Linked DNA regions of Homo sapiens. The protein of the gene in region 1 purifies or fractionates together with the protein of each later gene. This does not show direct contact. Each region holds a gene or a part of one and is shown in the gene's direction. Other genes may lie near its edges.

Region 1 (3,500 bases):
CACTTGAGGTCAGGAGTTCCAGACCAGCCTAGTCAACATGGTGAAACCCTGTCTCTACTAAGCATACAAAAATTAGCTGGACGTGGTGCCAGGCGCCTGTAATCCCAGCTACTCGGGAGGCTGAGGCAGGAGAATCACTTGAACGCAGGTGGTGGAGGTTGCAGTGAGCCGAGGTTGTACCACTGCACTCCAACCTGGGCAACAGAGGGAAACTTGTCTTAAAAAAAAAAAAAAAAAAAAAAAGCATGCTGAGATGCTTAAGTGAAGGAATTGTGCCTTCCATTTTTCCTGACTCATATGCCTGTAGCATAAGGATGGGTCAATGATAACGAAAGGAATTTGTTTTCATTTAAGCCCCTTTTATGTAATGGGCAAGATGTTGGCTATTTGATATGTTTTCTCCCTTTTAAGCCTTGCAATAACCCATCCAAGTAGGAAATATTATCTCCATTTTATAAACAAAGAAATTGAGATTCAGAGTTGTTAAGTCACGTTTCCCTGCATCGCCTTGCAAATAGGTGATTAAAATCTAGTCTGACACCAAATCTTCATTCTTTCAGCTATTATGTCATAATAGCATCCAAGGAGTTTACCACCTTCTACCACCTACTAGCTGTGTGACCTTGAGTGAATGACTCAATTCTCTTTTTTTTTTTTTTTTGAGACGGAGTCTTGCTCTGCTGCCCAGGCTGGAGTGCAATGGTATGATCCTGGCTCACTGCAACCTCTGCCTCCTGGGTTCAAACAATTCTCCTGCCTCAGCCTCCTGAGTAGCTGGGATTGTAGCTGGGGTTACAAGCGCCTGCCACCATGCCTGGCTAATTTTTTTTTATTTTTAGTAGAGATGGGGTTTCACCATGTTCGCCAGGCTAGTTTTGAACTCCTGACCTCAAGTGATCTGCCCGCCTCGGCCTCCCAAAGTGCTGGGATTACAGGCCTGAGCCACTGCGCCCGGCCGACCCAATCTTTTTTGCCTCAGTTTCCTCATCTGTCAAATGGGGTTGATGATAATACCATTTACTTCACAGGGTTGTTGTGAGACATAAAGTCAATATTTGTAAAGTGCTGAGTGTCTAGCACATAGAAAGTGCTATGTGAATTTGAACGATTATTATTATTATACCTATAGTGTGTGCATCTACTATATGCAAAGGACTGGATGCTTACTAGGTGTTAGCATCATTTTGGCTGTTGTAGAAACAACAGAGATGAGTAAGGAATAGATAACTGGTCCCAGGATGCAACTGTCTCTGGCTGGAGACTAAGGACAAGGCTTTGTTGCAAGCCTTCTGGGGCCCTGGGATGCCCAGGGTCTCCTCTTGGGGGTGCTGGTTCATAGATGGGGGCCTGTGTGGCTCCTTCACAGAGGAGGAGGCAGATGAGAGGCATAGAAAGGGAGGGGACAGACCTATCCTCATCAGAGACCTGGGAGATGGCTCTGGCCCTGGCCCTGGGTAGCTGTTTGTGACCTCACTCAAGTCCTTCTCCTGCTGTTTCTCCATCTACTCTTTTTTTTTTTTTTTTTTTTTTGAGACAGAGTCTCAATGTCACCCAGTGGCTCTATCTCTGCTCACTGTAACCTCCACCTCCTGGGTTCAAGCAATTCTCATGCCTCAGCCTCCCAAGTAGCTGGGATTGCACGTGTGTGCCACCACACCTGACAAATTTTTGTAGTCTTGGTAGAGATGGGTTTCACCATGTTGGCTAGGCTGGACTCCTGGCCTCTTGTGATCCTCCCACCTCGGCCTCCCAAAGTGCTGGGATTACAGGTGTAAGCCACAGCACCCAGCCTCCATTTCCTCTTTTGAGAAATGGAGGTATGACAACCATCTGGCTCAGCCATTGTCACACAGTATTCCCTGGGTCCTAAGAGTCAGGAAAGATGCTGCAGGGTTCCCTTTGAGGGTAATGTGGGTAGGGACGTGTTCAAATGGACTAGGGCTTAGCCTCTCCCCACCCTTCAACCTCTGGCTCCATCAGAGACACTTCTTTTTGACTTTTGTATATTTCTTTTTATTTTATTTTAGAGACAGGGGTCTCGCTATGTTGCCCAGGCTAGCCTCAAACTCCTGGGCTCAAGCAATCCTCCCGCCTCAGCCTCCCAGCCCCTGGGATTACCTGCTCATGCCACTGCACCCGGCACTCTGTTTTGACTTTTAAATGAAATATTTAATGGAGGGTCTCCACAGTTCAAAAATATTTGGAAAATCAGAAGACCACACCAGTGTGTTTCAAACTGCAATCTTAACCCAGGAATAGGTCATGCAATTTTTTTTTTATTTTTTTTTTCTAGATGGAGTCTTGCTCTGTCACCCAGGCTGGAGTGCAGCGGCACGATCTTGGCTCACTGCAACCTCCGCCTCCTGGGTTCAAGCAATTCTCTGCCTCAGCTTCCTGAGTAGCTGGGATTACAGGTGCCCACCACCGCGGCCAGCTACTTTTTGTATTTTTACTAGAGACGGACTTTCACCATCTTGGCCAGGCTGGTCTTGAACTCCTGACCTCGTGATCCACCTGCCCCGACCTCCCAAAGTGCTGGGGTTACAGGTGTGAGCCACCGTGCCCAGCCGGTCCTTCAATTTATTGGGATTATATTAGTTCAGACAATATAGCTTATGTAACAAGCAAATGCAGACTTTAAGTTAGAAGTTTATTGACCTCTGTGGCATAGTCATCCAGGGACCCCTAAGGTCACCCTAGCCCAGAAAGACACTTTCACTTCTACTCACATTCCATTGGTGAGAACTAGTCACATGGCCCTTGCCAAATGCAAGGGGGTCTGGAAGATGTGGTCCCTAGCGGGGCGGGACTAGCTGTAAAGTTTGTAAAGGGGAGCGTGAATTAGTTGGTACACAGTTGATCGTCTGTGCAGTAGGGTCATGCTCACACGTCCCTCCACACACACACGTTAAATATGTATAACAAGTGTAAATATACAATTTAAAAAAGTATCTTTTTTTTTTGGTTTGTTTTTGTTTTGTTGTTGTTTTTGAAACAGGGTCTTGCTCTGTCATGTGGGCTACAGTGAGCCACAATCATGGTTCACTGCAGCCTCAACCTCCCAAGCTCAAGCAATCCTTCCATCTAAGCCTCCCAAGTAGCTGGGACCACAGGTGCATGCCACCATGCCCAGCTAATTTTTTATTTTTATTTTTTTGTAGTGACAGGTCTTGCTGTGTTGCACAGGCTGGTTTCCTACTCCTGTCCTCAATCTTCCTGCATCAGCCTCCCAAAATGCCGGGATTACAGGTGTGAGCTACTGCACCTGGCCTTTACAATTTTTTACATAAAATGTTTCAATAAAAAAGTGCATAGATAGATACAGAGATAGCAATAAAGCAAATGTGACAGAATGCAACCAGTTGGTGAATTTAGGCGAAGGGATACATCAGTGCTCACTATACTAGTCTTTCAAACTTTAAAGTTTGAAATTTTTCAAAGTAAAATATTGGAGAAAATGAAATTCTTAAAATTTACTAGACCTATAAGTAGACTAAAAC
Region 2 (3,500 bases), on another chromosome or scaffold:
TCCCCAAATACATTTAGATAGTAAGGGACACATTGTTTTATGTCAAGAACCTGTTACATAAAAATGTGTTATATAATGTTCAAATATATACTGCACAGTGAAATTAGATACCACTTTTTTTTTTTCAAAGAATAAAAGGATAATAAACACAGGCCGTCCTGAATATAATTAACCTCAGATTTGGGAGGCATGGAAGGACGTGCCCTGCCCTCAGAGCTCTCGTCCTGAGCTCTGCCTTTCTTGAGTGCGCCGGGAGCAGGATGGATGGGAAGTTGGCCTGAATCTGCCATGGTGTGGTACTGTGAGATGCTCTGGAAATTGTCTTTTTTTTTTGGCGGGGGGTGGGGGATGCCTTCGCATCTTGCTCACTTGTATCTTTCTCACACCTAAGCAGAGGGAAGAAGCTCTTTTTGCCCCCTCGTACTTAGACCACCCAGGTCATCTTTTGACCAGTTTTCTGCTCTGCTCAACTCCTTTCAATCTTCCCAGATGACAGGCCAGCTTTGCCTGCTAAGAACAGCCCTGGTGCCAGTGGCATGCAGGTGGCACCCCTGTGTCCAGTCTTCCAGGCTCTCCAGGGTCTGGTCCTGTTCCTCCTCCCCAGCCCTGCTTCCCCGCTCAACCTCCATTCCCAGCCACAGCCCTGTGCCCGAGGTTCAGTCCTCCTTGCCTCTCCGCTGTCCTCCCTAGGCCACCTCACTTCACACTCTCCCTCTGGCTAGCGGGGTCTTTGCTTAAATTGTTCCCTTGAGGCCTCTCTTCCTTGCCCGTGCCTGCCTTGGATCTCACTTCTCTGTGAGGTACCTCTGATAACATTTGTTCCCTTTGTGTGTGCTCTCCCTTTTGCTCTTGATTGCCAACCATTCATTCGTTCAGAAGCAGGGGTATGTCATAATGAGCAAATTACCATATCATACTGAATCAGGATGGCCAGTTGTCTCATTTTTTAATTGTTTCATGGTTAATTATCTTACGCTCACTTCCCACTCTCCAGTTTCACTCAGTTACTCCGTCAGTGAAGTTTATTGGATGCCTAGCACTGTTGTGGGCACTGAGGATACAGCAGTGAACAAAACAAGGGGCCCGCAGGAGGGGACAGATGATGAATAGTGAAACACGTTCATGCCTTGTTGTGAGAAGTGCTAGGAGTGCTAGGATAGCAAGCAAATAGAGTAAAGCAGTAGCGATGAGGTATGGTGGGAGGGAGGGTACCTTATCTAGATCACAGGGGAGACCTCTCTGAGGAGGTGACATTTGAACTTAGCTTCAGAAAGATCTGGGGGAAAGTATCCCAGGAAGAGAGAACAGCACATGTAAAGGCCCTGGGGTTGAAAGGTGCTTGATATTTTTGAGGAAAGTAAAGGCTAGTGTGACTCGATTATGAGCTGCTTGTGTACAGATGTTTTCTGCCTCTTTTATACTCCCTTTAACCCTGAGCCCAGTGTTAGGAAGGCCTTGTAAATACTTACATACAGAATTATAGCATTTGTCATTGGTTATATATTATAAAATAGTAATTTTATAAAATAATAATTTATCATACCCTGCTTAGAAGGCTTTTAATAAAACATTATATTGCATATAAACAAATTAAGGGTTTGAAGGGTTTTCTTATAAATGCACTCCTAGCATGTTTCACCAAATATTACTGTTTTAATTGTGTTTAGTGCAGAACTTTAGACCTCATAATTCTGCTTCATGTGCACAACCATCTTAAAAACAGGTTTTGTTCCAAAAGTTTATTTGTAAGGCACTAGGTGGAAACTTGGGATAAATTTTTCTATAAGAAACAATGAAGTAAATAGTGATGTAGTTTCTAGGCGAGCCCTCAAAAGCTATTTAGTGGTGACTGTAGCTGAAAACATACTGGTTGGTATCAGCAGTCGTCAAGCCTTCTGCTGGTAGACCCTCCTCTCAGTAGCATTGTACCTCATTTGCTGTTAGCAATCATAGGACCCATTTACCTCAGTCACTTCTCCTACTGTATTTTCAGTCTGTTAAAGTTTTATAGAAGGGATTTTTTACCTTTATACCTTTAAGATTTGGTTGCATGTGTTATAAATGAGACAGTAGTGCAGAGAGTGGGGAAAACTCTGGACTGGGAGCTGGGAGAGGCCTGGGCTCCAGACTGGGCCCAGCCACTGACTGGCTGAGTAAATTTGAGTAAGTTATCCTCTTTGAACTTTGATTTCTCAGGTTCTTCTTGGCTGTAAAATCCTATTGTTTTCTCACCATAGCAGGGAAACGTAGATATACTTCGTTGTTCAAACCTGCCCTCAAATGGCTGCCTCTGATTTCTTCTTGAAGAAGTATATGGCACTCAGCAATGAGGAACTCAAGCAGTTCCCCATGTGCAGAGCTCTGCAGTGACATTCTCAGTAGGAACCTTGATTTTGATCTGCTATCTTTCTTGATGAGTTGAAAGAAATTTTGTCCCAGAACTTTTGGTCCAGATAAGATTTCTGTGTTCTTGGCCAACTTATCTTCCATATAATTATGTAAATTGTTTTTTCTTTTTAACTCTTAGGGATAAAAATGGTGACTCTGGCTTGCCTGCTTATAAAATATAGTTATAAGTGCCCTTAGGGAATGGAATGAGTTTGCAGGAGAGAGCAGAGCTGAAAGAGTGTGGGATCAAAAACAACTTTAAATGTTAAATGCAAAGCTATTTTCAGTACCCTGCTGGAAGAAAAAATTTTTTTCAAGGTTTTAGAGGATAGAAGAGGTTTTTGCTCCAAAGAAGAAAGGAACCTAAGGTTTTGCAGTGGTGAAAAGTACCTGATCCTTTAACCAACTACCACCCTCCCTTCCCACCTCTGAGTTTTGTTTTCGACATCATGAACCACATTTGCCATTTGAGAGGTTTGATATTTAAGTGACGTTAGTGGCAGAGCTCAACTGGCAGTGTTCAAATGACTTAGGTGCAGAGTGCTGTGCTGCAAACTTCCCCAGTGCATTCTAGGGTAAGGGATGCCTCATAGAGAGTGACAGAGCACTTTTAGCTCTGCCTCTATTTGGTCAGTTGTGAATGGTGTGTTCCTTTTTTTCCTTACTTGAAGGCATAGCGAGGAGTTGGTACAAGAAGTTATTGCTTCATGGACTTCACTTTGGAGCTAGAGGGTGGCATTAGACCTAGCCTGCCTTCTTGGATGCTGGAATACCAGTGGCAATGTCATCTCTTGTTCTCTGCTATACCCCTAGCAATGAAAACAGTGTCTGTACAGAAAAGTCTCTCAATAAATACTTGTTTATTCCTTCAAAAAGTGAATTCAGCTTTGGATAAATTTTTAATTTCCTCCACTCTCTAGCAGTATAGGCTTATGAGGTTGGTCTTGCAAGGTACTTTGGAGTTTAGGTTGCCATTTCTTTTTGACATCTGTGTTTTTCTTATTCTTCAGGTTGGTCAGGTATCAGTGTCTTTTACTGATGATGGTTGTCCCTGCCCTGCTGATGTTCATCTTCTGTTATCTTTAATTGGCTCCAAACTGCAGCAAATCTAT

The links. Proteins that work in one complex are often made in the same cells at the same time.
Region 2: the proteins of HNF4A (region 1) and BMAL1 purify together in Homo sapiens (co-immunoprecipitation; one study listed by IntAct). This does not show direct contact.

Annotation. Positions count from the first base shown.
Region 1 is NC_000020.11:44,362,199-44,365,698, forward strand, and holds part of HNF4A (hepatocyte nuclear factor 4-alpha), read left to right. Parts: intron 1-3,500. UniProt on the Homo sapiens protein: Transcriptional regulator which controls the expression of hepatic genes during the transition of endodermal cells to hepatic progenitor cells, facilitating the recruitment of RNA pol II to the promoters of target genes. Activates the transcription of CYP2C38.
Region 2 is NC_000011.10:13,284,290-13,287,789, forward strand, and holds part of BMAL1 (basic helix-loop-helix ARNT-like protein 1), read left to right. Parts: intron 1-3,500. UniProt on the Homo sapiens protein: Transcriptional activator which forms a core component of the circadian clock.